2 separate regions of the Homo sapiens genome follow, and region 1 is reported to be linked to region 2. Evidence: microRNA targets listed by miRTarBase, many of them from high-throughput screens and not tested one by one. Region 2 holds a microRNA gene; the other region holds the end of a gene's coding sequence.
The links. Region 2 holds the annotated microRNA hsa-miR-3910 (AAAGGCAUAAAACCAAGACA, at 7,136-7,155, opposite strand). A microRNA usually pairs through its seed, bases 2 to 8, with sites in the 3' UTR of a target mRNA and lowers its output. Matches are read on the target gene's strand: a 7mer-m8 pairs with bases 2 to 8, a 7mer-A1 pairs with bases 2 to 7 and ends in A, and an 8mer does both.

Region 1: miRTarBase lists GNL3L as a target of hsa-miR-3910. Seed matches in the 3' UTR shown: 7mer-A1 at 11,757-11,763, 7mer-m8 at 9,742-9,748 and 7mer-A1 at 9,069-9,075.

What each region holds. Positions count from the first base shown.
Region 1 is chrX:54,558,780-54,573,919 of GRCh38, reverse strand. It overlaps GNL3L (G protein nucleolar 3 like), which reads right to left. Exons shown (of 16, transcript NM_001184819.2): 16 at 6,631-13,400. The coding sequence ends at 13,318. Among named protein-coding and RNA genes, the nearest start is that of GNL3L, 36 kb to the right of the region's middle.
Region 2 is chr9:91,629,142-91,645,439 of GRCh38, forward strand. MIR3910-2 (microRNA 3910-2) reads right to left here and starts at 7,204; the gene lies at 7,123-7,204. MIR3910-1 (microRNA 3910-1) reads left to right here and starts at 7,110; the gene lies at 7,110-7,220.

The DNA of each region.
Region 1 (15,140 bases), not on the chromosome of region 2:
ACGGCAAAATTCACAGGGCCTGGCATCAAATCAAAGATTACTGGTTATGCAAAAAAAAAAAAAAAGCAGAAAAATATGACCCATAATGAGAATAATCAACAAAGCTGACTGAGAATTTCCAAAGATGTTAGAATTATCAGAGAAGTACATTAAACATTTGTTATCTATATTCCGTATGTTCAAACAGGTAAATAGAGGAATAAAAAATATTTTCAAACACCCAAATTTAATTTCTAGAGATGAAAACTACAATGTCTGAGTTGAAGAAATACACTGGAGGGACAAACAGCACACTAGACAATGCAGAAGAAAATATTTGTGAACTTGAAGGCATAAAATAGAAACTACCGAGACTCTGTCTCAAAGAAAAGAAAAAAAGAGCTCTCCCTCTCCCTCTCCCTCTCCCCATGGTCTCCCTCTCCCCATGGTCTCCCTCTCATGCCCAGCCGAAGCTGGACTATACTGCTGCCATCTCGGCTCACTGCAACCTCCCTGCCTGATTCTCCTGCCTCAGCCTGACTGGTTTTCGTATTTTTTTGGTGGAGATGGGGTTTCGCTGTGTTGGCCGGGCTGGTCTCCAGCTCCTAACCGCGAGTGATCCGCCAGCCTCGGCCTCCCGAGGTGCCGGGATTGCAGACGGAGTCTGGTTCACTCAGTGCTCAATGGCGCCCAGGCTGGAGTGCAGTGGCGTGATCTCGGCTCGCTACAACCTCCACCTCCCAGCCGCCTGCCTTGGCCTCCCAAAGTGCCGAGATTGCAGCCTCTGCCCGGCCGCCACCCCGTCTGGGAAGTGAGGAGCGTCTCTGCCTGGCCACCCATCGTCTGGGATGTGAGGAGCCCCTCTGCCTGGCTGCCCAGTCTGGAAAGTGAGGAGCGTCTCTGCCCGGCCGCCATCCCATCTGTAAAGTGAGGAGCGCCTCTTCCCGGCCGCCATCACATCTAGGAAGTGAGGAGCGTCTCTGCCTGGCCGCCCATCGTCTGGGATGTGGGGAGCGCCTCTGCCCCGCCGCCCTGTCTGGGATGTGAGGAGCGCCTCTGCCCGGCTGCGACCCCGTCTGGGAGGTGAGGAGCGTCTCTGCCCGGCCGCCCCGCCTGAGAAGTGAGGAGACCCTCCGCCCGGCAGCTGCCCCGTCTGAGAAGTGAGGAGCCTCTCCGCCCGGCAGCCACCCCGTCTGGGAAGTGAGGAGCATCTCCGCCCGGCAGCTACCCTGTCCGGGAGGGAGGTGGGGGGGGTCAGCCCCCCGCCAGGCCAGCCGCCCATCCGGGAGGGAGGTGGGGGGGTCAGCCCCCCGCCCGGCCAGCCGCCCCATCCGGGAGGTGAGGGGCGCCTCTGCCCAGCCGCCCCTACTGGGAAGTGAGGAGCCCCTCTGCCCGGCCACCACCCCGTCTGGGAGGTGTGCCCAACAGCTCATTGAGAACGGGCCAGGATGACAATGGCGGCTTTGTGGAATAGAAAGGGGGGAAAGGTGGGGAAAAGATTGAGAAATCGGATGGTTGCTGTGTCTGTGTAGAAAGAAGTAGACATGGGAGACTTTTCATTTTGTTCTGTACTAAGAAAAATTCTTCTGCCTTGGGATCCTGTTGATCTGTGACCTTACCCCCAACCCTGTGCTCTCTGAAACATGTGCTGTGTCCACTCAGAGTTAAATGGATTAAGGGCGGTGCAAGATGTGCTTTGTTAAACAGATGCTTGAAGGCAGCATGCTCGTTAAGAGTCATCACCACTCCCTAATCTCAAGTACCCAGGGACACAAACACTGCAGAAGGCCGCAGGGTCCTCTGCCTAGGAAAACCAGAGACCTTTGTTCACTTGTTTATCTGCTGACCTTCCCTCCACTATTGTCCTATGACCCTGCCAAATCCCCTTCTGTGAGAAACACCCAAGAATGATCAATAAAAAAAAATAAATAAATAAAAATAAAATAAAATAAAATAGAAACTACCCAAAATAAAACACAGAGAGAAAAAAAAAATCCAAAAAATCCAAAGAACATCAATGATCTGTGGGACAACTTCAGGCAGCTTAAAATAGGTAACTGGAGTCCGTGAAGGAGGAAAGCAGGTGAAGAGGAAAAAATATTTGATAAATTAATGGCCAAAAACTTTCCAAATTTGATGAAATCTATAAACCTAAATATCCAAGAAGTTCAATAAACTCCAAGCAGAAAAACATAAAAGAAAAAAACCCACCAAGGCATATTATAATTACATTGCTCAAAAGTGATAAAGATTAAAAAACACATTATCTATAGAAGAAACAAATTAAGATGACATCAGATGTCTCAAGCCAGGTGCAGCAGTGCACGCCTATAATCTCAGCTGCTCGCAAGGCGGAGGTGGGAGGATTGCTTGAGCTCAGGAATTTGAGACCAGCCTGAGTAACATAGCAAGACCCTGTCTCAAAAAAAAAAAAAAAAAAAAGGCCGGGCGCAGTGGCTCACACCTGTAATCCCAGCACTTTGGGAGGCTGAGGCGGGTGGATGGATCACGAGGTCAGGAGATCGAGACCATCCTGGCTAACACGGTAAAACCCCATCTCTACTAAAAAATATAAAAACATTAGTCGGGCGTGGTGGCCGGTGCCTGTAGTCCCAACTACTCGGGAGGCTGAGGCAGGAGAATGGCATGAACCCGGGAGGTGGAGCTTGCAGTGAGCTGAGATCGTGCCACTGCAGTCCAGCCTGGGCAACAGAGCAAGACTCTGTCTCAAAAAAAAAAAAAAAAATTAGGATGACATCTTAGAAACAACATAATTGAGAAGAGCATGAAACAATGCTTTTGAGGTACTGAAAGACAAAACCTATCAACTTAAATTCTATATGTAGCAAAAATACCTTTCAAAGATGACGGCAAAAAAAATACATTCAGACATACAAAAGCTGAATTAATTCATTGCCCAATAGACTCACAATGCAAAAAATGTTAAAGAAAGTTCTTCAGGCAGAAAGAAAATGCTACCTTATAGAAGTCTGGAGCCACACAGAGCAATGAAGAATACCAGAAATGGTAACTATGTGAGTATATAATTATTTTCTATTATTTAAATCTCTTTAAAAGAGGACTTAAAGTATAAACAAAAATAACAACAATGTATTTTAAGGTTTATAAAATCTACAAGTAAAATTTATGACACTAGCATGAAAGCCAGGAGGAGGAAGTTAAACATTTATACTATAAACTCTAAAGCAACTACTAAGATAATAAAACAATGAGGTACAGCTAATAAATCAAGGAAGAAAAAACAATGGAATCATTAAAAAAAACAGTAATCCAAAAGAAGGCAGAAAAAGGGAGAAAAGGGAACAAAGCATACATGGAACAAATACAAAACAAATAGCAAGATGATAGACTCAAACCTAGCCATACTGATAATAACATTAAATGTAAATGGATCCAAACATCAATTAAAAGGCAGAGACTGTCAAATTGGATAAAAAAGCAAGAACCAACTATATGCTGCCTATGATAAATGCACTTTAAACATAAACACACAAATACATAAAAAGTAAAAGGATGAAAAAGATATACCATAGTTAAACTAGCCCAAAAAAGCTGCAGCAGCTATATTTATACTAGACAAAATGCATTTCAGAACAAAGAATACAAGGAAGTTCATTTCAGAATGATAGTGGGGTCAGTTAACTAAGAGGACATGACAATCCTAAAGGTCTATGCACCTAGCATGAAAGGTTCAAAATCAATTAAATAAAAACTGATACAACTACAAAAAATAACAGACAAATCCACAATTATCATTGGGGACTTCGATAGTCCTCTCTTAATAACTGATAGAACAAGTAGGCATAAAGTCAGCCTGGATATAGTAGACATGAAAAACACTATCAACCAACTTAACTTGGTTGACATTTATAGAAGACTACTCAACAACAGCAAAATTTATTCTTCTCAAGTGCACATGAAACATATTACCAATACAGACCATATTCTGGGCCATGAAACAAGTTTTGATATGTTTTAACATATTCAAGTCATATAAAGTACATTCCTTTACCATAATGTAATTAAATTAGAAGTCAATAGCAGAAAGATCTCTGGAAAATGTCCAAATATGTGGAAGTTAAATAACACAGTTCTAAGTAATACAAAAATCATAAACTTTTTGGATAATAAGCAAAACGAAACAATAAAGATAAAGCAGAAACCAATGAATTAGAAAACAGAAAACAGAGAAAATCAATTAAACCAAAATGTGATTCTTTGAGATGATCAATACAATTGATAAATCTTTAGCCAGATGATCAAGGGGAAAAAGGCACAAACTATTAATATCAGGAATGACAAATGTGGTATCACATTGTGTTAGTCTTCCAACTTTGTTCCTTTTTCAGAGTTGCTTTGACTACATTCTAACTACTTTGCATTTTCTTATCAATTTTAGAATCGTTTTAACAATTTATACAAAATGATAAGAGGATATTAACAACTTTACAAAAATTAATTTGATAAACTACATGAAATGAAGAACTTTCTTTAAAATACTAATTACCAATCCTCACACAAGAAGAAATATAACCTGAATAGCCCTATATATATTTTAAAAATTGAAATTGTAGTCTTAAACCTTCCCACAAATAAAACTTACTGGTAAACTCTAAAATTTAAGAAATGATACCAATTGTACACAGACTCTTCCAAAAACAGGAAACACTTCCCAACCCATTCTATGAGGTCAGCATTACCCCGATACCAAAGATAAAGACATTAAACAAAAGAAAACTTCAGACCAATATCCTTATGTAGATGCAAAAATTCCAAGCAAAAATTTATCAAATTACATCTGCAGTAGGCTGAATAATGCCTCCCATCCTCAAAGATCTACAGATCCTAATCTCCAAAACTTTTGAATATGTTACTTTACATGGTTAAAGGAACTTTCCAGATGTGATTAACTTAAACATATTGAGATGTGGAGATTATCCTAGATGATCCCAATGCATGCAAAGTAATCACAAGAGTCCTTTTAAGTGAGAGGCAGGAAGATCAGAGTCAGAGAAGATATAAGGATTGGAAGAGAGGTTCAGAAAAGAGAAAAAATACTACATTGTTGGCCAGGCGTCGTGGCTCACGCCTATAATCCCAGCACCTTGGGAGGCCCAGGCAGATGGATCATGAGGTCAGGAGTTCAAGACCAGCCTGGCCAACACGGTGAAACCCCATCTCTACTAAAAATACAAAACATTAGCCGGGCATGGTGGCGCATGCCTCTAATCCCAGCTACTTGGGAGGCTGAGGCAGGAGAATCACTTGAACCCAGGAGGCAGAGGTTGCAGTGAGCGGAGATCGTGCCACTGCACAACAGCCTGGGCGACAGTGTGTGAGACTCCGTCTCAAAAAAAAAAAAAAAAGATACTACATAGTTATTTTGAAGATGAGGAAAGAAGCCATTATTCTAGGAATCTAAGCAGCCTCTAGAAGCTGAAAAAGGCAAGGAAATGGATTCTCCCCTAGAGTCTCTGGAGAGAGTGTAACCCTGACAACACCAATTTTGGCCCAGTGAAACTCATTTGGGACCTCTCACCTCTAGAAGTGTAAGATGATAGATTTGTGTTGTTTTAAGCCACAAAGTCTGTGCTAATTTTTTACAGCAGCAATAGAAACTAATATAACTTCCCAACAATTTATTAAAAGAATAGGCTGGGTGCAATGGCTCATGCCTGTAATCCCAGCATTTTGGGAGCCTGAGGCGGGCGGATCACAAGGTCAGGAGTTCGAGACCAGCCTGGCCAATATGGTGAAACCCCATCTCTACTAAAAATACAAAAACTAGCCGGGCGTGGTGGCACGCACCTGTAGTCCCAGCTACTCAGGAGGCTGAGGCAGGAGAATCACTTGAACCCGGGAGGCAGAGGTTGCAGTGAGGCAAGATCATGCCACTGCACTCCAGCCTGGGTGACAGAGTGAGACTCCGTCTCACAAAAAAAAAAAAAAAAGAATAATACATCATGACAAAGTGGGGTTTATCACAGGAATGCAGGATTGGTTTATCATAAGAAAATCAATCAATATAATTTATTAAAACTACATTAAAAACAAACCACAAAAGAAAAACCATGTAATCATTTCAATAGATGCATAAAAACATTTAAGAAAATCTAACATCCATTCCTAAAACAAACCCTTAGCACCTCATACTAGTAAAGGGCAATACAAAAATCTAACATACTTAATGGTTAAAGGCAGAAAGAATACTCTCCCCCAAAGTCAGAAACAAGACAGGGATGCCTGTGCTCACCATTCTTTTTTTTTTTTTTTGAGATGGAGTTTCGCTCTTGTTGCCCAGGCTAGAGTGCAATGGTGTGATCTCGGCTCACTGCAACCTCTGCCTCCTGGGTTCAAGAGATTCTCCTGCCTCAGCCTCCCAAGTAGCTGGGACTACAGGCATGCGCTGCCACACCCAGCTAATTTTGTATTTTTAGTAGAGACGGGGTTTCTCCATGTTGGTCAGACTGGTCTCAAACTCCCGACCTCAGGTGATCAGCCCACCTCAGCCTCCCAAAGCGCTGGGATTACAGGCGTGAGCCACCGCACCTGGCCACCACTCTTACTCAGTGTAGTACTGGAAGTCCCAGCGACTACAATAAGACAAAAAAAAAAATGCAGACATATATATTAGACATGAAGAAATAAAACCATGTTTATTCACAGAAGATATGATTGTCTATGTAGAAAGTCTGGTTAAATCTGCAAAAAAAGCTACTAGAACTAAGTGACTTTAGCAAAGTTTTAGCACATACTGCTAGAAAAATTGGGTAACCATATTTTTTTAAAAAGCATAGATTCATACCTTGTACCATATACAAAAATTGACTCAAAATGGATCATAGACCTAAATGTAAAACCTAAAACTATAAAACTTTTAGGAGGAAACATGGGAGAAAACCTTTGTCATCTCATGTTAAGCAAAGACTCCTCTGATGTAACACAAAAAGCATGATCCATAGAAAAACAAATTAATAAATTTAACAGCCATGGTGGCACATGCCTGTGGTCCCAGCTACTCAAGAGGCGGAGGTGGGAGGTTCGCTTGAGCCCAGGAGGTCGAAGCTACAGTGACCTATGAGCACACCACTGCACCCCAGCCTGGGTGACAGTGAGATCCTGTCTCAAAATAAGGGGAGAGATCTCCATACCCATATTCATAACAGCATTTTTCACAATAGCCAAAAGGTGGGAACAATGCACATGTCCATCAGTGGATGAATGGATAAATAAAATGTGGTATATACACACAATAGAATAATACTCAGCATTAAAAAGAAAAGAAATTCTGACGCAGGCTACAACACAGATTAAGCTTGAATACATTATGCAAAGTGAAATAAGCCAGTCACAAAAAGATAAATATTATATGACTATCAGGGTATTCAAATTCAGAGACAGAAAGTAGCATGGCAGTCGCCAGAGGTTGTGGGCAGAAGGGGTTGGGAGGTTATTGTTTAATAAGTACAGTTTTGGTTATGCATAATATAAATCATTCTGCCATAAAGACACATGCACACATATGTTCACTGCAGCACTATTCACAATACCAAAGACATGGAATCGACCTAAATGTCTATCAACGAAAGACTGGATAAAGAAAATGTGGTACATATGTGTGGGGATTATGGGAACTACAATTCGAGATTTAGGTGTGGACACAGCCAAACCATATCAGATGGTAACGTTTATGTTCTGTGTATTTTACCATAATTTTTAAAAATAAAAACAAATGTGTCAATAAAGCTTTCCCATAATGAAAAAAAGACACCGTTTACAGAATGAGAAGACAAGATACTGGCCAGGCACAATGGCTCATGCCTGTAATCCCAGAACTTTGGGAGGCTAAGACGGGTGTATCACTTGAGGTCCAGAGTTCAAGACCAGCCTTGCCAACATGGTGAAACCTTGTCTCTGGTAAAAATATAAAAGTTAGCCAAGCATGGTGGCCTGCGCCTGTAATTCCAGCTACTCAGGAGGCTGAGGCATGAGAATTACTTGAACCCAGGAGGCAGAGGTTGCAGTGAGCCGAGATTGCACCACTACACTCCAACCTGGGTGAGGACTCTGTTTCAAAAAAAAAAAAAAAAAAAAACACCCCTGTATCCAGCATATAATCCTCAAAATTCAAAAATAATAAAACAATCCAAAATATGCAAGAGATGTGAACACCTTGCCAAAGAAGATATGTAGATAGCAAATAAGCATATAAAATATGCTCAAATCATTAGAGGATGCAAATAAAAACGATGAGATACCACCACATACTTAATGTCAAAAAACCTGGCTGGGCATGGTGGCTCACACCTGTAATCCTAGCACTTTGGGAGACCGAGATGGGAGGATTACTTGAGGCCAGCAGTTCAAGACCATCCTGGTCAACACAGTGAGACCCCATCTCTATTTAAATGTATTAAAAAAATTAAAAAATTTAAAAATTAAAAAACTAAACTGACACCCCCAAGTACTAGAGAGGATGTGGAAATGAAACTTTCATACTGATGGGAATGTGAAATGGTAGAGCCACTTTGAAAAACAGTTTAGAAGTTTCTTAAAATGTCAAACATATGCTTACCATATATCCCAGCAATCCAACTCTAGGTATTTACTATAGATAAATGAAAACACAAAATGTTGCATACAAATGTTTATAGCAGCTTTACTTGTAATTGTCCAAAACTGCAAAGATCCTAAACATCCTTCAACTGGGGAACAAACAGTAGTAAATCCACACAATGGAGTGACTCAGAAATAAGAACTATTAATATACTGAGAAATATGGATGAATCTCAAATGTATTACTCATAGCAAAAGAAGTCGCTCTCAAAATGCTACATACCATATAATTTCATGTATATAACAGTCTTCAAAAGACGAAAATATATGGCCGGACACGGTGGTTCATGCCTATAATCCCAGCACTTTGGGAGGCCGAGGTGGGTGGATCTTTTGAGGTCAGAAGTTCAAGACCAGCCTGGCCAGTGTGGAGAAACCCCCGCCTCTACTAAAAATACAAAAATTAGCCCAGCATGGTGGTGGGCACCTGTAGTCCCTGTTACTCGGGAGGCTAAGGCAGGAGAATCGCTTGAACCCAGGAGGTGGAGGTTGCAGTGAGCCAAGATCACGCCACTGCACTCCAGCCTCAGTGAAAGAGTGAGACTCTGTTTCAAAAAAAAAAAAAAAAAAAAGACAAAAATATAAGAACAAAGAAAAAGGCCAGGCGCAGTGGCTCACTCTTGTAATCCCAGCACTTTGGGAGGCTGAGGCAGGAGGATCATGAGGTCAGGAGTTCGAGACCAGCCTGGCCAAAACAGTGAAACCCCATCTCTACTAAAAATACAAAAATTAGCTGGGCGTGGTGGCGGGCGCCCATAATCCCAGCTACTCGGGAGGCTGAGGCAGGAGAACCGCTTGAACCCTGGAGGCGGAGGTTGCAGTGAACCGAGATCACGCCACTGCACCACTCCAGCCTGGACAACAGAGCTAGACTCTGTCTCAAAAAAAAAAAAAAAAAAAAGAGAACGAAGAAAAAAACCAGTGACTGCCAGGGTTTGGGTGTAGGGGACTGGTTTTGACTACAAAGTAGCAGGAATAAATTTGGTAGGGAGAGGCTAAGAGGACTGTTCTGTACCTTGGTTGCATTGGTGGTTACACAACTCTACACATTTATCAGAGCTTTATAGAACTGTATACCAGAGTGAATTTTACTGTAATGTAAATGTTTATAATTTTTAAAACCTGAAGGCATAAAATAAGCCTACTCATTGTATGATTCTATTGATATGACAGTCATACTAAAGCAAAACTATAGGGGCAGAAAACAAATCAGTGGTTAGCAGAATCTGAGGGTCGGGGGTAGGAGTTGACTACAAAAGGGCCTGGAGAGTTTTAGGGGGGTGATGCAACTATATTTCGATTGTGGTAGTGGTTCACTCCTGTATATGTTTGTACAAACTCACATAACTAAAACTATAAAGAGTGAACTTTACTATATGTAAATTGTACCCTAATTGTTTTGAAAAATGAAGGTAAAAAGTTAAGAAAATACTTTTTTAAAAAAAACCTTTGAGATATGCTGTAGGTAGAGAAACTGCACTCCCAACGTCTTTTTTGTTTTCCTCTTTTTTTTTCCCCCTGAGACAGTCTCACTCTGTTGCCCACGCTGGAGAGCAGTGGCACAATCTCGGCTCAATGCAGCATCGACCTCCTGGGCTCAAGAGATCCTCCTGCCTCAGCCCCATAGGTAGCTGGGACTACAGGCATGAGACACCATGCCCAGCTAATCTTTGTATTTTTTTGGTAGAGATGAGGTTTCGCCATATTGTTTAGGCTGGTCTTGAACTCCTGACCTCAAGTGATCCGCCTGCCTCGGCCTCCCAAAATGCTGGGATTACAGGTGAGAGCTATCGTAACTGGCCTGCAGTCCCAAATTCTTACCGACATGACTACTTTAGTTCTGTTTGATTTTGGCCAAATTATGCTCCCATGCTGTTTCTTACTCATTTAGATACTTCCATTTCTAATATTTACCTCCCAGCACTTCTCCATTACCGATGGGGTCACCTCCTGATAAACCCGTAATTTGCACATTACAATGGGTTTACCAGGAAGTAGCCCCATCATAAGTAGAGGTGCATTCTGAATGTATACTGCTTTTCCACCAAAAATCCCACATCAAACCACCAAAAGTCGGGGACTGTCTGTATTTTAAATGCTAAATTATGAAACGCTGTATGGTTGCAAAATAGACTTAGCTGTCCTGGTATGCAATTTTTCATTATAACACTATCACATACCAGGAGAGTTCAATGAGATAGTGTGAAATAAGTTGTAGCCTATTCAAGAGCACATAGTTTTAGCAAGACACTAAAAACTAGTAGTTTAAGAAACTAGAGTTTTTTAAACCAAAAAAGAAAAAATTTAACGTTAAATGCATTTAACGGACTTGATAACAGAGACTGGCACAAAGTAGGGGCTTAATCAATCTTCCTTTGTTAAGGAGGCAGTACAATATAGAGGAAAGGGCCTGCATAGGGTTTTAATCACGCTTGGGTTCCAATCCTAGCACCACCACTTAATACGCCCACTTGGGTCTGGCCATCCTGTCAACTTTTTTTTTTTTTTTCCGAGACGAAGTCTCACTCTGTCCCCCAGGCTGGAGTGCAGTGGTGTGATGTCGACTCACTGCAACCTCCGCCTCCTGAGATCAAGTGATTCTCCTGCCTCAGCCTCCTGCATAACTGGGATTACAGGTGTGAGCCACCATGCTCGGCCAACATTCTGAGATTACTTTTTTTTTTCATTTGGGGAGACGAATCCCTTACTAGCAGAGCTGTATTGAGGGTTAACGGTGGTAATGGGTCTCCAGGGCTTGGTGCAGTTTGTACTCAACAAGTACGTAATTCTCTCCTTTGGTTGCCCCTGAATACAAGAGTGGTCTTGTACTTCCCTGCCTGAACAGTCCACAGCCAATGGCACTCCAGTCCTTGTCACATGGTTCCACTCTTAGGATGTAAATTAGGAGGTACCAGCTTGAGAGGCAGAGGCAAAGGTAAGGTTAAGATGCAGCTGTGAGGCTGGGCACAGTGGCTCACGCCTATAATCCCAGCACTTTGGGAGGCCGAAGCGAGTGGATCACTTGAGGTCAAGAGTTCGAGACCAGCCTGGTCAACATGGTGAAACATCGTCTCTACTAAAAATACAAAAACTAGCCAGGCGTGGTGGCAGGTGCCTGTAATCCCAGCTACTTGGGAGGCTAAGGCAGGAGGATCACTTGAACCCGGGAGGCAGAGGTTGCAGTGAGCCGAGATCACGCCATTGCACTCCAGCCTGGGCAACAGAGCAAAATAAATAAATAAAGGTGCAGCTGTGGGTCGAAGGATGGTGTGGAAGTTTGGGGTAGACATCCAAGACTGCAGTAATGCTATGCCCAGGGTATATTTTGGGGCAAAACCCCCAAAATACCCTGGCAAAGAAAGAAGATTGTGTTTCAGTTGCAATCATCTACCCTAATCCCTTTCTGAGGGCCTCTGGCACTGCTTGGGCTCACTGCCCTTGTCTGATGGGGTAGGATCTCCCAGAGGAGACAGCTAATTATACTTTAATGAGGTGACTTACAGACACTGGAAAAGGAGTTGGCTGGTACACTCCCATATATAGCAGCTCTCTCGAGGATACAGTCTGTGAATAAATGGTACCAGAACCCTCTTGAGCCATGGAATTCAAATGCTGGTGCAATAGGAGACATGGTCACACAAGGGCAGGGTCCAGCCAGAGTACTTCAGTTAAAGAGATTCCTCCAATTCACAATCTGCCCAGAAATGCCCCCAAGACGGGGCTTCCCCCTAAAGCCTCCCTACTAACAGGTGCTTTGTTTTCTCTTCACGCAAACAGGGTAGTGCCTACCACACTTCAGCACAAGCCAGGCTTGTTTGTTCTCTTCTTCCCTCTACCCTATCCCTAGAACCTTCCAGAGACACAGGAGGCTCATTACTTTCTACTTTTTCTCACTGCCACCCAGGTGAAGACCTATGGACTTGGAAGATGCATGGCCCAAAGCCCACTGCAGGCATGCCTTGCCACTGAAATCTCCTGTGGGGTGGTAAAGAAACCATCACCCTCCCGCAGGGACCCCCAGGTCTACCAGCAACCTAACTTCTAGTGGCATATTCACCTGTCTAAGAGAGTTTTGTAGGCAGAGTTTTGTAGGTCAGCCCTCAACAGGTGTTAGCACCTGAGCTCTGCTGATACTTCTTTTATTTCTCTTGTAAAACAGAGTAGGGGTTAAATAGAGGGTATTGGGTTTGGCAGCTGCAGCCCCTTGGGATTTTTTTTTTTTTTTTTTTTTTGGGACGGAGTTTCGTGTTGTTGCCCAGGCTAGAGTGCAATGGTGCCGTCTGGGCTCACTGCAACCTCTGCCTCCCAGGTTCAGGCGATTCTCCTGCCTTAGTCTCCCAGGTTCAGGCGATTCTCCTGCCTCAGCCTCCCAAGTAGCTGGGATTATAGGTGCCACTAAGCACGGCTAAATTTTTTTGTATTTTTAGTAGAGACGGGGTTTCACCATGTTGGCCAGGCTGGTCTCGAACTCCTGACCTCAGGTGATCTGCCCACCTCGGCCTCCCAAAGTGCTGGGATTACAGACGTGAGCCACAGCACCTAGCCGGGACTGTTTTTACTGGAGGAGGGGGAGAAGACACACAGTGGGGAAAGCGTTCTTTCAATATGCAGATGCTTCAGGGAGAACCAAACTATTTCACTGGTATTCCCCCGTACCACCGGAACTGGTGCTTGGAGCGGAAGGGAAGTGAGATCAGTCGATTAGTCACCAACACCATCATCAGCATTGCCAGAGAGGTCGAGAGCAGACATCATGGAATCAGACAGCTTGCTGGCGATTTTATCTGCAAATGGAGAAATACAGGCAATCTTTTGGTGGCTGGCTTGCCACCAGGAGGCCTGCTGACGCTGGCCTACATCTACCTTGGTCTACACCAAGCTCCTGAACTGGCTCACTTACCCCCAAACGCTACCACAAAACTGGTGAGTGCTGGAAGCCACTGCTCAGCTTCACAGGTAGACAATCCATTTTTCTATCTGTGAAATGATCATCCCAACACAGCTTCTATCTCAGGGTTTCAGACTCACTGGGCTCCAAGTATTTTTGTCCAAATACCAAAGCAATAATTTTCTTTTACTATGTCAAACTTAGTGCTCTACCATTACCCTCAAAACAAAGCTCTCACAGCAAAGGGCAACACGGCTGTATGTTCGCCATAAGCCTGAACGTTCACCACGCACACCTCCCATCCCCCAGACACACCCTGTTGTTCCTCAGGATGCCCCCCAGACTTCACCTCCTCCAGGAGGCCTTCTCTGATCACCCCTATCCAACCACCATCCCCAGGCTGGGTTAGGTTCCCTCACTGTGCTTGCTGGGTCTTCAACGTGATTACTATGTGCTCGTGCTGCCAAGGTCTGTTTTCTTGTCTCCTCCTCACTCCCTAATAAGACTAGGAGTTCAAAGGCAATTCATCTGAATTCCCAGGACTCAGTGTGGAGCCAGGCCAAGAGTGAATGTCTGATTGTGTATGTTTGGTTACAGAACACAATCTAGTTCAAAGAATAGGGCTGTTGGGGTCAATCAACCCAAAGTCTGTATTTTGGCTCCATCAACTACAAGTTGTCTTACCTTTAGCGTGTCACTTAATGTCTCTGGACCTCAGTTTTCTCACTTATCAAATAAGGGGAAGACTTTTGCAATGAGTTAGTGAAAAGTACAGCATGGAAACCCAAATGGGCCAGCTACACAATGTACCACCATTAAAACGAGGGGAAGAAGTTCTTTTGTGTATTAACATAGACATATCCCTAAGACATAGTGAGTGGAAAAATGATAGGGCAAAACCATGTGTCCAGTAGATTGGCATTTGTGTGGAAAAAGAGAACAAAGAATATATAGATATTTGCTTGTGTCTCAGAAAAGACACAATAAACTAACTGGCTGACGAGGGGGCGGTCTGGATGACTAGCGGGTGGGAGAGATTTTACTGTATATCCTCTTGTACGTGTAGGATTTTGAGTATATTGCCTATTGATATATAGCCTGCAAGCTACCTAACACATAGAGAGTACCTGATAAATAAATGGTCGTTATTTGATACATAGACTAGGCAGGCCAGTGGTTCTCCCAGTGTGATCCCCAGAGAAATAGCATCAGCTGGGAACCTGTTAGAAATACAAATTCTAACAGGCCCCACAGAAGACCTACTCAATTAGAAACTATGAGGGAGGGGCACAGAAATCTGTGTTTTAACAAACCCTCCAGGGAATCCTGATGCGAGCTGAAGTTTGAGAGCCACTGTGCTAGTAGTTGAGCCTCCTAGCTCATCCCTGCCCCCAACCCTAGACTGGAGCTGGACACAGAGAGATACTCATTCAGGAGCCCCAATCAAGATCCCAGGTGGGGCCACGTGCAGTGGCTCACATCTGTAATCCTAGCACTTTGGAAGGCCGAGGCAAGTGGATCACCTGAGGTCAGGAGTTTGAGACCAGCCTGGCCAACATGGCGAAACATCGTCTCTACTAAAAATACAAAAATGAGCCGGACATGGTGGCAGGTGCCTGTAATCCCAGCTACTCAG
Region 2 (16,298 bases):
TTTGACTTTCAGCACTTTTACTATGATGTGTCTGTGGAACTGTTTGTAGATTTAACCTGTTGGAGTTCATTGAGTTTCCTGGATGTGTGGGTTATTGTTTTTCAGTAAATATGGAAAGTCTTCAGGGATTATTTCCTTAAATATATGTTCTGTTCTTTCTCTCTCTTTTCACTTTCAGGTAGTCCTATTATGCCTATCTTGCTGCATTTACTGGTGTCCCACAATTTTCTTAGGCTCTGTTCATTTTTCTTTATTCTTTGTTCTTTTGGCTGGCATAATTTTTATCAATCCGTCTTTAAGCTTGCTTATTCTTTCCTATGCTAGCTCAAATCTACTACTGAACCTGTCCAGTGAGTTTTTTATTTTGGTTATTGTACTTTTCAATTCCAAAATTTTTATTTTTTTATAATACCTATATCTTTACTGATATTTTCTATTTAATGCAAAATTGTCATCATACCTTCCTTTACTCCTTTAATTATGGTTTCATTTAGTTTTGTAAATATGTTTATAATGTCTACCTTGAAGTCTTTGTCTGATAAATATAATATCTGATTACTGTCATGGGTAATTTCTGCTGCCTGCTTTTGTTTCAATATATGACTCACACAGTCTTGGATTTGAACACCTTGTAATTTTTTATTGGATATGGGATATTTTGTATAATATATTGTAGCAACTTTGAATACTAGTGCCCTCCCCCAACCCCCAGGCTTATTCTAATTTCCTGGTTTATTTGTTTAGTGATTGACTGTATTATTTTAATGAAGTCTATGCCACCACACACACCCACTTCTGATGTTGCTCCTCTGGGAGGTTCAGCTTTAGCTTTACAAACCTGGAATGACAGTGGTTTTGGTAGGGCTGTCTTCCTCTGACCACACCCAGTTGTTAAACCCCACTAATTTCCAGCTGATTAATCCATTATTAACAATTCCCTTAGGCATAAATTGTTCTACAAACTAACCCAATCAAATTCTGGCTCCTTTGAAGAAACAGTTTCTGAAGTCACTGTTTGATATGTGTTCTGACACTATGAGGGCCCTTCCCAGATGTCTTCTTCCCCAGTTCTCTCCTGCAAACTAGAAGGCCTACAGTTTAGCCTAGATCTTGACCTGCCTCCCAATCATCTTTCACCACAATTTTCACTGTTCTTGAGAGAATCCTTGAGCTTGAACTCTTTTATCCTCTTTTGCAAATGAAGTAAGTTCCTTTAGGAAGAGATTAGGAGCTGTCTGTTTTATGGCCTGCTTCTGCCTTCCAGCCAGAGCTTTGACTCTGGGGGCTAGGACAATGGCAAGCTTCTCTCCCAGGGACACTTTCATTTCAGGTTCTGAATGCCCAGTGGAGGCAGGGCAGAAGCCTGGGGTCCTCTTGGTCCTTACATCTCCTGATGTGGAACAACTTCCAGTCAGCTGGAGCAAGGGTGATTATGGCACCACCCTTCTCAGCATGCCATGCCAAGGTAGAGTCTCCATTCCAAAAGTAGGGGCTGGGTGAAAGAATGGAGCCCCCATTACCTCATGGCACTTGCTCAGAACTTGGAAAGGGGTAACAGGAGAAGATTGCAAGGGGACAAAAGAAAACCTTTGGGTGATTATGTCAATTGTGGTGATGGTTTAATAGAGGTATACTAAAACTTAACAAAAATCCTATACATCAATAAAACTGCCAAAATTGCAGAACATAACTTAGGGGGAGATATTTCTAATATAATAAAGAGTTAGTATAAGAAAAGTTCATACCAAAGGAAGGGAGAAACAAGATACTAAAATAGGAATAAATTCAGTCATGAACTCAGGTATCTTCCATCTGTATCTCTAGATAGAAATCTTGGTTGCAGAGGAGGTAGAATAATGGCAGAATGCCTGGCAGAGAGCTTAGCATTCACCATGTACTTGTTAATGTTTATTGAGTAAATGTTTGTTGAGTTTGTTGCCCTTGGGAAGTTACTTTCACACCCATCACTCCCCTAGGGTCAGTTTCCCTCTAACACCACCATGATAAACAGCCTTTGATCACAACAGGAAGTCATATTGCATTAGACTCAAGAGTCATTCAGCACATCTTCCTTACATTGCCTTCGTCATAATAACGAAGAATGCCGACCCATTACATAGACACAATATAGCAATAATATTTAGCGCCTTATCTTTTTTTAAATCTGACCATCTCAAAATGGAGATGATAGGTTCCATATACCTTCCATGTATTTCCAGTTTTAAGAAGCTTTAAGAAGTCGAGAATAATTTTTAAAGAAATTACATTAGTTAATAATTTTCCATGACTTGGCTCCTACTGGAGCCTTTCAATTCTACATGCGTCTTTTTTCTCAGCCAGGCTGGTCTCTGTGTTGCTCTAACCATGCCTCATTATAGTAATAGCCGTCATTTCACATAATCTAATGAACACCATGCACATCATACACACTTCACATATGTCAGCAAAAATCCTCACATCCACCCTCAAAGGCATTAATTATTCCCCATTTTACAAATGTGAAAATTGGTGATCAGAGAAATTAACTAACTTGCCCAAACTCTCTCAGCAAGTAAAAAGTTTCTGTCTGACCCTCCAAACGTATACCATTGGGCTCTCTCTCTGTCTGATGTTCAGATTTTTGTCTCTGCCTTTTTCCTCCTGCCATTTCCTTAGTTTGGATCTTCCTTTCTCTCTTTCTTTCAAGGTCCTGCCTTCAGCACAAACCCTTCTCCAACAGTCCAGGCCCCAGGCTCCTCCAAGTACAGCTTGCCAATTCCTTGTCTGGCAAGGGAAAAGGAGGGAGAGAGAGAGAGAAATGGGGGTCAGAAGTGAAGCCATTAGATGCCAGGCATAGTGGCTCACACCTATAATCCCAGCACTTTGGGAGGCTGAGGTGGGCAGAAAATCACCTGAGATAAGGAGTTCGAGACCAACCTGGGCAACATGGCAAAACCCCGTCTCTACTAAAAATACAAAAATTAGCCAGTCATGGTGGTACATGCCGGTAATCCCAGCTACTAGGGTGGCTGAGGCAGGAAAATTGCTTGAACCCAGGAAGTGGAGGTTGCAATGATCTGAGATCATGCCACTGCACCCCAGCCTGAGTGACAGAGTGAGACTCCAAAAAAAAAAAAAAAAAAAGAAGAAGTAAGGCCATTAAGAAAGCCAGGAGGTGAGGAGTAGGGGATGAAGAGCCAATCTCAAGAAAAGGAGATGAAACTTTGTCTCCTCTGCCTTTCAAAATGCTGTAGCCTGATCTTGCTTTTGAGAGCAGGTAAGGAAGATGGGCAAGCAGAGGAAGGAAACGTGTTGGGTGGAAGATTCTTCTTCACCCAGAAATGGCTTCAGCACTCACCAGGACCAGAACCCAGGCTTTGTAGGGCAGGAATGAAGGGCGCTAGCCAATTTCCTTAGCCTCTGCTTCACACAGCTGTGGGATTACTGATTTCTTTGTCCATTTTGTTAATTAAACTAAAAATAATTTGCCATCATCCATCATGCTTTCAAGAGATAGTCTTTAGCTATGAGCATCTGATTTGGAGTAGCAGAGGAAATGCACACTCTGTTAATCAAATTTCAAAAACCAGAATCCAGTGGGACCTTTGGGCCAGCAAAGTGGGGCTAAAGCATATATGCCCTGTTGCTGCACTTAGGTAGTGAACCACTTGAGGAAAAGAACTGCTTTGAAAATCTTTATTTCCTGAATCTGCAGAGGAGGCCAGGAGAACTTTCTAGGGATGAGGGTGATGTTCTATATCTTGATAGAGGTGGTGTTTACACAGATATATAGCTGTCAAGTCATCAAATTGTACACTTAAGATCTGTACTTTTTACTGCAGGTAAATTCTACCTTATTATGGCTAATGGAAAGAAAGAAGGAAAGTAGAAGGGAAGGAAGAGGGAGGGAGGGAAGGAAGGAAGGAAGGAAGAAAGGAAGGAAGGAAGAGGAGGGAGGGAAAAGAAAGGAACAGAAAGGAAGAGGAGGGGAAGGGAAGGGAGAGGGGAAGGGAGGGGAGGGGAAGAAAGGGGAGGGGAGAGAAAAAGAATCCTCCCACTTCTGTAAACGTAGGTTTGCTGTATTAGAAATCCTGGTTCCCATTGGGCAGTGCTTCTGTCCAGGAGCCAAGTAAGGATTCTGCTGCACCTGCAGCTGCAAATGCCACATGGGCACTTTGGGCTGCTCTTACCTGTGAGCCCACACGTGGTGAAAAGACTAACTGCATGATGGACTAATTGACCCTGACTGTCATGAGAAGATGGTGCTGCCACAAGTGTGAATGGGAGGAGAAGATCTGGAATGCAGGGAGTCAGTGGACCTCTCTTGAGGCTTCTGTGTGGCAAACAAGAAATTGCAGCCATTCTGAGCTTCAATGAGAGTAGGTAGAAAGGGGTTGCTGTGCTGGATAGTGAAAAGCCAAGATGACCATCTGAAGGTCAGTCAAAGGCTTCTTGTCAAGAAGCTTCCAGGTTTCCTGATGAGATGTAGCTTGAGAGTCACTTCCTTTCCAATGGACAAAGTGATGGAACAAGTGACCTATTGTAGAATTAGTCTGAGGGTTTCACCTACATTTGCCATTATCCTGGCACACCCTCTCCATCTCAGGGCTGCGCCACCTTTTTGTGTCTGTCTGATACAGGCTAATTGCTCTCTGTGTACATAGGCAGAACAGGTTACTGTAACAAGTAGAGACTGCTATGGAGATTTCATTAAGGTTGACACATTCATTTCAACTGGCCAGGAGCGTCAGACCATATCCCAGAACACTCAGGCATTCTCAAGTACTAACAAATAATCCCTGTAAATCACTCACTTCCACAAAAGTTTAAAATAAAAATAGAGGTAGAGGAATCTTTCTCCAACTTTTTCCTGATGCTCTTTTCTATTCTAGTGTGATCCTGCTCTATGTTTTCCAATCTCATCATTCTTGTTCATTGCTGGTCCACTCAGTCCTTTTAAGTCAACAGTTATAAGTGTGCTTACATTCTATTAGAATGAGATCTGATGACAGGGCTTATCTAAGGCTGAAGTCCCTCAAGGACTTCCCTTCCCCAATCTCTCTCACACATCAATAAGAGCCGCAGGAGTGGCTTTATTATGTGAATTTATTGTGCCTTCTCTTGAAGAATATCATCCAATGCTGTTTTAAAATTGTATCTTTCAAATGCCATTTGAAATGGTTATAAGGCATAGAACAATATAAGCTATGGCATTTGCTAATAAGCATTAGCATGGAGCCATATGCTCCCAAAATATATTACACTTTCCACAAAGAAGTCAGAGACAGAGTTTATCAAGGATAGATACCATACTTCTTTATTCCCTAATAGCTATAGCTATATCCTTAGGGTTCTATGCTATTTTTATTTTGAAACTCTTAAATATGCAGTCTATTTCATCCCATAAACATATTAAAGACTAAATTTACCACAGGTTGTCAGACTAGAAAAAGATGAATGAGACTCTCTAAAGGCAGGCAAGCTCACTAAAAAAATATTACCCAAATGAAAACTCTGGGCAACAGAATAGTAAAGCAACACTCTTTAATGTTACTTGATCATTTGGTCACTAATTCCAGAGGATATTTGGTAAAATGTTCAACAGATAATCTGTTAAATGAGATGAAAGCCTGGGTTTGAGAAATAAAAGTGCTCTCTAAAGTTGTTTGAGTGGAAACTGTAGGGAAATAATGAGAGAGAGAGAGAGAAGAAGAAGAAGAAAAGAAGAAGAAGAAGGAGAAGGAGAAGGAGAAGAAGAAGAAGAAGAAGAAGAAGAAGAAGAAGAAGAAGAAGAAGAAGAAGAAGAAGAAGAAGAAGAAGGAGAAAAAGAAGAAAAAGAGGAGAAGAAGAAGAAGTAGCAGAGGAGGGGAGGAGGAGAAGGAAGAGGCAGAGGAGGAAGAGGCGGAGGAGGAGGAAGAGGAGGGGGAGGAAGAAGAGGAGGGGGAGGAAGAGGAGGAGGAGGAGGAGAAAGAGATTACATGCCTGTAATCCTAGCACTTTGGGAGGCCGAGGCGGGTGGACTGCCTGAGCTCAGGAGTTTGAGACCAGCCTAGGCAACACGGTGAAACCCCGTCTCTACTAAAATACAAAAAAATTAGCCGGGCATGGCGGTGTGCACCTGTAATCCCAGTTACTTGGGAGGCTGAGGCAGGAGAATTGCTTGAACCCAGGAAGCGGAGGTTGCAGTAAGCCAAGATTGCGCCATTGCACTTCAGCCTGGGCAACAGAGCAAGACTCCGTCTCAAAAAAAAAAAAAAATTGAATATTTTACCTCGTCTTAAGAGTTTCATGTCAATCTGGCCTTTATCCCTTTAAAAAGGGTCTTTCTTTTTTTTTTTTTAACTTCTCTCTGGGAGTTTCCAGAAACCTCTTTTTTCCTTTGGTGCTCATAAATTTAATGAGCATGTATATCAGTTGGGGCCATTTCTCATTCACTGCACTCAGGAATCAGCATGCCCTTTCAATAGGGGATTCATATCATTCAGCCCTGGGAATTTCCTTTAATTTTTTAAGAAATATAATTTTGGGCCAGGAGTAGCGGCTTATGCCTGTAATCCCAACACTTTGGGAGGTCGAGATAGGTGGATCACTTGAGGGCAGGAGTTCGAGACCAGCCTGGCCAACATGGCAAAACCTGTCTCTACTAAAAATACAAAAATTAGCTGGGCATGGTGGCAGGTGCCTGTGATCCCAGCTACTCAGGAGGCTGAGACAGGAGAATCCCTTGAACCCAGGAGGCGGAGGTTGCAGTGAGCCAATATCACGCCATTGCACTCCAGCCTGGGTGACAGGAGCAAAACTCCATCTCAACAAAAAATAAATAAATAAATATAATTTTGTTCTCTTAATTTTCTCTGTTCACTCTTTCTGAAAAGCCTGATGAATTGGTTTTCTATACTTCCTTTGCTTCTCTAATATTTTCCTTCTTTTTGCTCTGACTCTAAGGAGCTCATTGGATTTTCCAGGCCTTCTATTGAAATTTTTTTTAAATCCTAATTTTTCTTTATTAAAGATCTCAGTTTTTTTGTCACATTTTTGTAACATCTTGCTCTTGTTATCTAGATATGTTTCCAAAATCTCTTTTAATTCATCAATTAAGGGGATTTTTAATGTCTTCGGATTCTCTTCTTCTTTTGCTGTCAGTTTTTCTGTTGCTTGTCTTGGTTTTATGCCTTTTATATCAAGGCACATAAAAGGCATAAAACCAAGACAAGCAACAAAAAAAGGATTGATCACAGAAGTTTCTCCTTATGTGCCAATTGGTCTTCAGTTGCTCAGTTCTAGTTAAATCAAAAGACCAGGGTGGCTGGTGTGGTTTCCTCTGCTGTTGAGAACATTAGTCTGTTTTCCATCAGTCTCACCACTGAATGGGAATTCTTGCTGGATGCTCTGGGCAGGGCAGGGCATGACAGGGCAAATAGACTGGTGGGCTTTCTTTGGGTAAGCAGAAAAGGAACTGGCATTGACACTGGGCTCTCCAAGAGTCAAAATGAGAAAGACATGGTACACAGACTCCCAGACTAGAATACATATTATTTTCCAATTATGTTTTAGCATAATTTCTTTAAAACAGAGCCCTCTGTTCTTTGGTGGGAGTAGCATCCTATCCAATTTTATTATTGCCATTGAAAAGAAATATAATTTTAAATAAGTAGTTATCATTGCTATTCTAATTTGTAGGTAACACAGTATAATAGAATTAGCTATCTAATTTACAAGTTACTGAATAATATGATTTTTAAAAGGAAACATATCAAAAGATGTGAAAGAAAAGAAAGAAAATTTTAAAATAAAGCAACATAAACAGAAAACATAAAATAAGACTGAATAAATAGATAACACATATGAGTTATCATAATAATTATAAATGGGTTAAATTCATCTAACATGATTCAAAACAATTTTAGAATTATCCATCTTGGGTTCAAAACCAAAGTTTGTCGACAAGTATTTTACTTAAATTTACTATACTATCTGTTAGGCTACTGTCTCCCAGCTTCAAGCCCATCCTTCTACCTTCAGTATATGAGGCTGGGGCAGGAGCTCTGCAAACACATTTATGCTCTATCAATAGAAGGCACTAAAGGGATGACTGAAGCCTGGAGTAGAAAGAAAAAAATGTTTTACTTTTTCATTCTGAGAGTGTAATTTGTTCCACCATAAGTAGTTTGTTCCTGAATGTTCTCCCAACATTCCCCAAACCAGTCTCACTCCCCTGTAAAACACAGACACAGACACACACACACACACACACACACACACACACACACACTTTGAAATGCCAGCATTTGTTCTTTTGTTTTCTGCATCAGGTCCCTAAAATGGCATTTAAAAGATAAGCTGGGCAGACACCTCTCCTCAGAGGTCTAGGCCCCAGACTCAAGGGGTCCCCTCCTCTGAGATTTTAAGTTTTAAGAAGTGCAGCTTCTTTCCTTTGTTTTCCAGGTTCTATGGGTGGTAGCTGCTTCCAGCACTTGTTACTTCCATGATACTTAGAGTTCTCTTTGTTTCCTTTCAATTACCTGATAAACTTTATTCCTACTTAACAAGACAGTGCTGTCTTATCTTCTAAATGTCATTGTAGGGACCTGATGCAGAAAACCAAAGAACAAAGACTCAAGTAACTTCCAGCTTCCTATGTGTAGAAGTGAAAGAGGTGAATAAGTAGACTAATCCAGAGATATGAATTTGCAGGCTGGGAGCAGGGATTGATCCCAGAAGTTTAACATGATAGAGAGTATTGATATGATACATTATGTGGCTTGAACAGGATAGAAAAGAAGTAAATCAAAGCCAAGAATCAGCTGACAGACTGGAGAAAACTTCAGGAGTTTAGGGTGATGAGGTTTGCTGAATATTAAATTCTGGCATGGTGAAGTAAGTAAGAGGAAGAACAGATAGAAAGGTGTTTGCAGCCTATGGACAGTTCAGTGTTGAAGCGGTCCAGGAAATGACAGGATCAAAGCTGTGGAATTAGAGTTGAGATGGAGGCGAAGGCCAGTAAAGACAAGGAGATTGTTCTACTTAAAAATTTAGCGGCTTAAAATGACAGTGATATTTTGCAATTTTGTGAGTGAAGAATTCAAGGATTAAACTGGGCAATTCCTCTGGTCTATGTGTCAGTCACTTGTTTATATTCAATTAGTGGCTAGTCTGGCTTAGGGAGCTCAAGACTGCTTCTCTCACACACCTGGTGCCTTGTTTGAGACAACTAGGCTCAGCTGAGCTCCTTTTCCATGCCATATATTATCAGAATCTCCATGTATACACTCTTGTAAACTAGTCAGACATGGTAGCTCAGCACTTGCAGAGACCAAAACAAAAGCTTTAAAGACTAAACCTATAATTGCATAACATCATTTCCTCCATACTTGATTAGTCAAAACAGTTATGGGACAGTCCAGATTCAAGGAGAGGAGAAAAGGATCCCACTCTTATATGGAAAGGATGTCAAAGAATTTGTAGTCAACTTTAACCTGCCACAGAATTCCTACTAAGATAGGAGTTAGCTCATCTAGATAAAAGATAACATGAGTTGGACTTATGAGGGAGACAAAGGAAATGTTCCCAATAAATGTAGGAGAGTAGCCCAAAGGTGAGTGACAGCTACGAGATGGGGCAGAGAACAGTGTACTGGGATGATATTGCCTCTGTAGTTAGCTAACACAGTTACTTTCACCTGTGAGAGAGGGTGGGTGTTATGGGCTGAATTTTGTCCTCCCAAATTCCTATGTTGAAATCATAACCCCTGATACTTTTGAATGGGACTATATTTGAAAATAGGGTCTTTAAAGAGGTAATTAAATTAAAATAATGTCACTGGGATGGCCCTAATCTTTACAAGAAGAGGACCTTAGTACCCATACACACACAGGAAGAAGACCATGTGTCTTAGTTCAATTGGTGTTGCTATAACAGAATACCACCAACTGGGTAATTTATAAAGAACGGAAATTTATTTTGTCACAGTTCTGGAGGCTGGGAAGTCCAAGGTCACAGTGCTAGCAGATTTGGTGTCTGGAGAGGGTCCAGTCTCTGCTTTCAAGGTGGCACCTTGAACACTACATCCTCCAGAAGGGAGGAACATTTGTCCTCATGTGGCTGAAGGCAGAAGAGCAAGCAAGCTTAGCCCTGCTTGAAGCCTCTTTTATGAGGGCCATTAAGCTGAATCACAAGGGAGGAGACTTCATGGACTAATCACTTCTTAAAGGCCCCATCTCTCAATACTTTCACTTTGGAATTCACACCTGAATTTTGAAGGGTTACATTTAAATCATAGTATTATGAGAAGACATAGAGAAAAGATGCCATCTACATGACAAGGAGAAAGGCCTCAGAAAAAAAAACCAATCCTGCCAACATCTTGATCTCAGACTTCTGGCCTCCAGAACAGTGACAAAATCAATTTCTGCCTAGAAAACTAATGTGATAGGTGATTTTTGTGGGGTGGGGAGAGTGTCCACAGCACAAGAGGTTGCAGTGGCAATGGGAGATTGGTTACGTATGGTGGAATTGACCAAGCAAATGTATTCAAGACACTGAAAGCCAAGTTTCCCGCTGTCAGAGAAGGAAATTAATACACAGAAAAAGAAAATTAGAATGAACCTTCCAGTTTTGCATTGGAAATTGAGATATTAGGACAAATCTATGATTTTCAATATATAAGTAGGTTGATAGATAGATACATACATACACAGAGTAGGATACAGGCATGTAAATGCTTATATACAAATATTCCTTAGCTCTCTCTTCACTGAAAGAGTCTGGAAGGGGCAATACCTTAAAAGCGATGAGCACATCTAGAAGCCAGATCTTGGTATTTAAATACCATTCTCTACTAAAAGAAGACTTGGCTTCTTTGAGAGATGGCCGATTCTAGTACTAGGGCAGGGAAAGAATAAGAAGAGCCTGGAATGTCTTGTGCCATCAGGAAAGAATAAAGCAATCACAGCACACTGAAAGCTTAACAAAAGGCCACAGAAGCCAGCTTGAAGGGGCTCCCATTGATCAAATCTAAAACAATTTGGTTGTCAAAATACATGCTGAAAATAACAGATTATACCCCATTGAGTAAAAGAGGAAAGCACAAGTCCATAGTGATAGAAATAAATAAGTAAATAAATTAAAAATTGAGGACATTTCCATAGTTCCAAAGTAGATTCCCCCAAAATACTTATTAATTACAAAATAAAAAAGAGTACCTTGATAGTGAAGGAGGCTGGCAGACACCAGCTTAATCAAGAGATCAAAGTGAACATTGTAAGGAATGGGGCAAATCAAGATCAGGTGCTACCTGCTAGTGTATTATGAGGACATGACATAATTTCTGTGGGATTCTTGCCCAAAATGCAGAACCTGAATCAGATTACAAAAAAAAAAAAAAAAAATTCAGGCAAATCCAAACTGAAGGACATTCTGTAAAATAACTTGTGTGTAATCTTCAGAAGTGTCAAGGTCATGAAAATCAAAGAAATACAAGGAAAAGGGAGTTGTTCCAGATTAACCAAGACTACGAGTCACGTGACACATGCCCTGGCCTGGATCCTTTTGCTATAAGAGACATTATTTGCACAACTGATGAAATGTGAATGGGTCTGTGGATTACAAGCTTGTAGGAAATCAATATTAATTTCCTGCTTCTGATGGATGTATTGTGATTATGCAGGAGAATGTCCTTGTTTGTAGGAAATACACACTGAAGGATTCAGGTGTCCTGGGGGCATCAAATGAGCAAAACACGCTCAGATGGTTTAGGAAAATAAAATAGTGTATTTGCATTGCATTTACAACTTCTTTAATGTCTGAGATTTTTTTACTTAATGAAATTAATAACATTGATATTCTTTACCCAGAATAATAAATGGTATCTATTTTTAGTATCAGTCAAAGTCAAGTCAGGGGACAGAAACTAACATCTACTTAAATAGAGATAATCGAATACAAACAACTGGCAAATAAGTAAAAAGTTATTAACTAGGTAACTGAAATGGCAATAAAAGAACTCTGAGGTACCACAAATGTTGCATTTGCAAAATGCAGCTACCATTCCTAGGGCTAGGGAAATAAAAGAAAAAGTTTGGAATTATTAAAACTTAGAAACCTTGAGGTTGATCCCCATGGGCCTAGGCCCCAGACCTCTGAGGAATCTGAGCTCAAAAGGGAGAGTCAGGGACATTGCCATATAGATGATAAGCATGTCAATTCTCTATATCTGTGTAAAAAAGTCCAACAAAACTTAGGCTCTTAGAAATTTATTTTTATTATACTCATTGATTCTGTGGGCACTTTAGAAAGAACACGATAAGGTGGCTCTGTCAATCATTTTGGGGGCCTCAATTGGAAGGACCAGAAAGCTGGGGGTGACTTCGTGGGTAGGGTCAGGAATCTCAAGCACATGTGGTTTCTCCATGTGGCTTGGGCTTCCTCACAACATGGCAGCCTTGGATTTCTTACATGTCAGTCAGAGCTTCAAGAGAACCTGGAGGTGGAGGCTGTATCACCTTTCATGACCTAACCTCAGAACTCACATGGATTCTCTTGCCTGCCTGGATTTGAGCACAGGAAATACAGGTACTGCTCAGCATTTAGGGAACGGCAAGGTCACCTTGCAGAAGAGCAGGTGTGATGAGGATGTAGCTGTCTTTGGAAAATATAGCCTGCACATAGGTAAACTTACAGGTGTCATCATGGAAAAAGCAGTCTGCAAATCTCAGACTGCTATGACAGGAGGTTAAAACCGAAGCACTAAGACATAATAGAAACAAAATTACAAATTCAGATCTTCAAAAGAGATGGCTCAGAGCCAGTTTGACAAGTCTTGAGCCCCTCTACCTCAGCAAGGGAGGAGCGCTGGAGAAAAGAAGATTTTAGGGGAAGGGTTTTGAAGAGAGCTTGGGGAAGAAGTGGGCCCTGTCTCTTTCACTCCTGTCTCCTGAGGGGCTTCAGCCAGGGGAAGCATGAGCATGAGAGTCTTGGGGAACACCCTGGAGGGGAGTCTGATTCCTACCCAGGGAAGCCTGGATGACAGGAGAGAGCAGTGTTGAAGCAGTAGCAGAGTTGGGGGAAAGGCAATCTCCTGCCACGCTTGGGAGGAAATGCCCCACATTCAACCAGGAGAGGGGATGCTGGGTCCTGGGGGCATGATTCTCAAGACCTGGAGCAGAATTCAAAGTTAAAGTAGTGGTTGGGCACTTTGTCAGTTCTGCCTAGAAGAACCTACCGGAATAGGTCATGGGCCCTAAAAATTCCAGGCTACGAGAGGGGAACAGCAGGAGAACGAGGCCTGGGTGCGTGGTGGCCTCCAAGGGACTCCAAGCAGGGGCCTCTGAGCCCCCCTCCCAGAAGTTTCCATGGAGTTCACTCACAGAAGAAAGGACCTAAGAGTTAAGTAACTCACCCAGGGTCGCAAGTAGTTAGTGGCAGCACTTTAAGCACCTGCCAGGCCTGGAGGATGCAAAGACAGATTAAGATCCCTCTATCTCAAGTATAACTCCCTGGTAGCCCCCTGCTCTGCCTGCCTGCAGGAGGCAGCCTTGGCCACTGGTGAAGCATGGGTTGTACAATAAAGAGAGGCCGATGGTGCCTTGTCCACTCCCATTGCTTCCCCTCAGTGTGCCCGGCTGCAGTGGGCAGAGGGTCTGATCCCATATCCAGGTCCTGGACTTTATTCTTGTCTCAGAAAGGACATCCCAATTGCCAAGCCAAGGCAAGAGTGGGTGGAAAGGTCACAGGGCCTGCCCATGTTCTCCGGGGCAGGGCAAGTTTGCCCCTATGAAATAAATCACAAAGCAGCAGTGGAACATAAAAGTCAAACTGGGACATTCTTGTGGAACAGGCTGGGCGCAGCCTCAGGGAATTCCATGTATGGGTCACAGGACAGGCCGCCCAGAGGTGCTAGAGGGCTGAAACAGCTGGCTAGATGAAACGAAAGAAAGAAAGAAGTAAGCAGAGAAGAAGTGACATCCACTAAGAGGAAGGTGCTCCCAGGGCCAGCCCCTCTCAGACCCGAGCAAGTATCACAACCCTGTCTGGGAGGAGGAGGCAGAAGAAGGAGCCCAGAGAGGCTTGCAGGCCTTTGCAATTGTGCATCTTAGACCAGAGTTCCTCAGGCTCCCCATCCAGGTTCAGAGCCAACACGGTGGCAGCTGCTCAGGGCCGCCTGTTCAAACACAGATCACTGAGTCCCAAAATCATTAAGTCTGGGCTTGACCTGAAAATTTGCATGTCATCCCCAGATGAAGCTGAAGCAGTTGGACCAGGGACCAGAGTTTGAGAAGGAACACTGATTATGGTGTGGTGTAGCAGCAAGGGGCTCACCTCGTGCCTAGGAATCACACTAGTTTATTTTAAACACTGGCATGGACAGTGTTAAGTAGTGTACAGCTTTAGTAGAAATTGAAGATTAATGAAAATACTGCAGAAAACACACAAATAGATCATGTGCTATATATGCAATCATCGGCCTGTAGGCCCTAAGCAAACACTGCTCCTCCTGGGGGCAGCGCCTGGGAGGGAAGTAACATGGCCCCAAGAAGTTCGACAGGCCTTTGATGCTATGCAGGACAGCACAAAGCTCGCCAGTTTCCTCCATCTAGGTAGAGAGCCAAGACGGGAGTGGCTGAAGTAATGACTGCCTGCTGAAATGAGAATTCTTTCATTTGGTAAATCAATAATTACAAGCACACTGGGGAAATTAAGCAAAGAAAATTACATCACTCTAGTGTTGCACTAGAATCATACATGCCTACAAATAACAAATCGGGAATTCCCCCAGCAGTTATAAATAAACCACACACATTGCACACTTGCAAAGGGATGTGAGTAAGCAGAGTGTTTGCTCCTCATCAATGATAACACACATGTGAGCTGGTTGTAAATATGAAGGTTGTAGCAGCTACAGGAATCATTGCTTTAAATTTTCTGTAGTGTGCGTATGTGTTTGTGTGCATGTGTGTGAACGTATGTGTGAACGTGTGTGTGTGTTTTCCTGTATGTGTGTGCATCAGGCATTTCCCAGAGAGAAAGCACTATCTTTCTCTCCAGGGAAAAAAAAATCATTGAATGGAAAGAAATGGCAACAAACCACTTGGAAATCTAAACATCCACCTTAAGGATCAGTTCAGAGAGCTGAACAGAAACGCTCCAGCCCACAGACCCCATCAGTCCACGTGTCCACTTCCTTCCCTCGTGGTTACTCTGGTCCTTCATTACTTTCTGCTGTGTAAACTCTAGCCCTTCAGACTCACTCACCTATAGCCACGAGCCTTAGCAATAAATTGGGTGGGGTGGGGGGGTCTCTTTCATTTTAGGGACATTTCAGGTACAAGGGAATATAATTATTACATACTCATGCCAAAATTTGTATATTTTTAAGCCATCTGCATCTTAATTTCTAAAGTTAATATCCTAATTTTATAGGAAAGAAAAAGAGGCAAAGTTGGAGAGGTGAGTGTTGTCCAGAAGTTGACCCAGTGGAGGCTGGGGGACTGTGGTGGACTCCTGGGCTCCAGACGCCAGATGCACACTGGTCCTGCTGCCTGTGCTGCCCATCTCAGGCAGACTCACCTCTTCTTCCTCCATGCTGGTGCACCGGATCTGCCCCTCAACACCACCTTCAAGGCCATCACTGATGGCATGAAGGTTTGCTTAGCATTTCTCCAGCCACATCTCCATAAGCTTCTAAAGTGTTTGTGCACGTGTACACTCATGTGAAAGCACATTGAGTCCTGAGAGTGGGACTTACATACATGGCACTTTCCAGAGTGGAGGGACACAGAGGGCTAAAGGCCTGGGGAGGAGAGGTAGGCCTCAGCATGCTCAGCCCAGGGCCATTTGCCTGGAGCGTTCACCCTATCCAATGCTATCTCCCCTCTTCACCTGCCATCACCTGCCATCTGATGGACTCTAACCGCCATGCCGGCAGAGCCAGGTCAAGGGATGGGCCAGCCAGGGATGTGGACAGGACCCTGATCTAACCCAGACATAAACACCACTCTGGGAAGCGAGGCACCTCCAGAAGAGTAAGGGGTGGAAGAGATGGCATTGGCCAGAACTTTCCCCAGATATGTGGCTTAAGAGGAAAACACTGGGAAGCCATCCGGGCAGCAAAGAAGACCCCAAAGAACAGAGCTTGAGGAACGAAGAGAAATGAACTCCTTTGAAAGACATTTCTTCTGAGCTGGGGCCAGAAATGAACTGCTCAGGGAAATAGAGATGGGTGAGGCAGAGGTGCCATCCGGGACCTCTTTTCTCATGCTCCAAGGAGTACTCTGCCTCTCCGGATCCACATCAAGTGTTACTCAAAGACTCCCAGCTGGAAA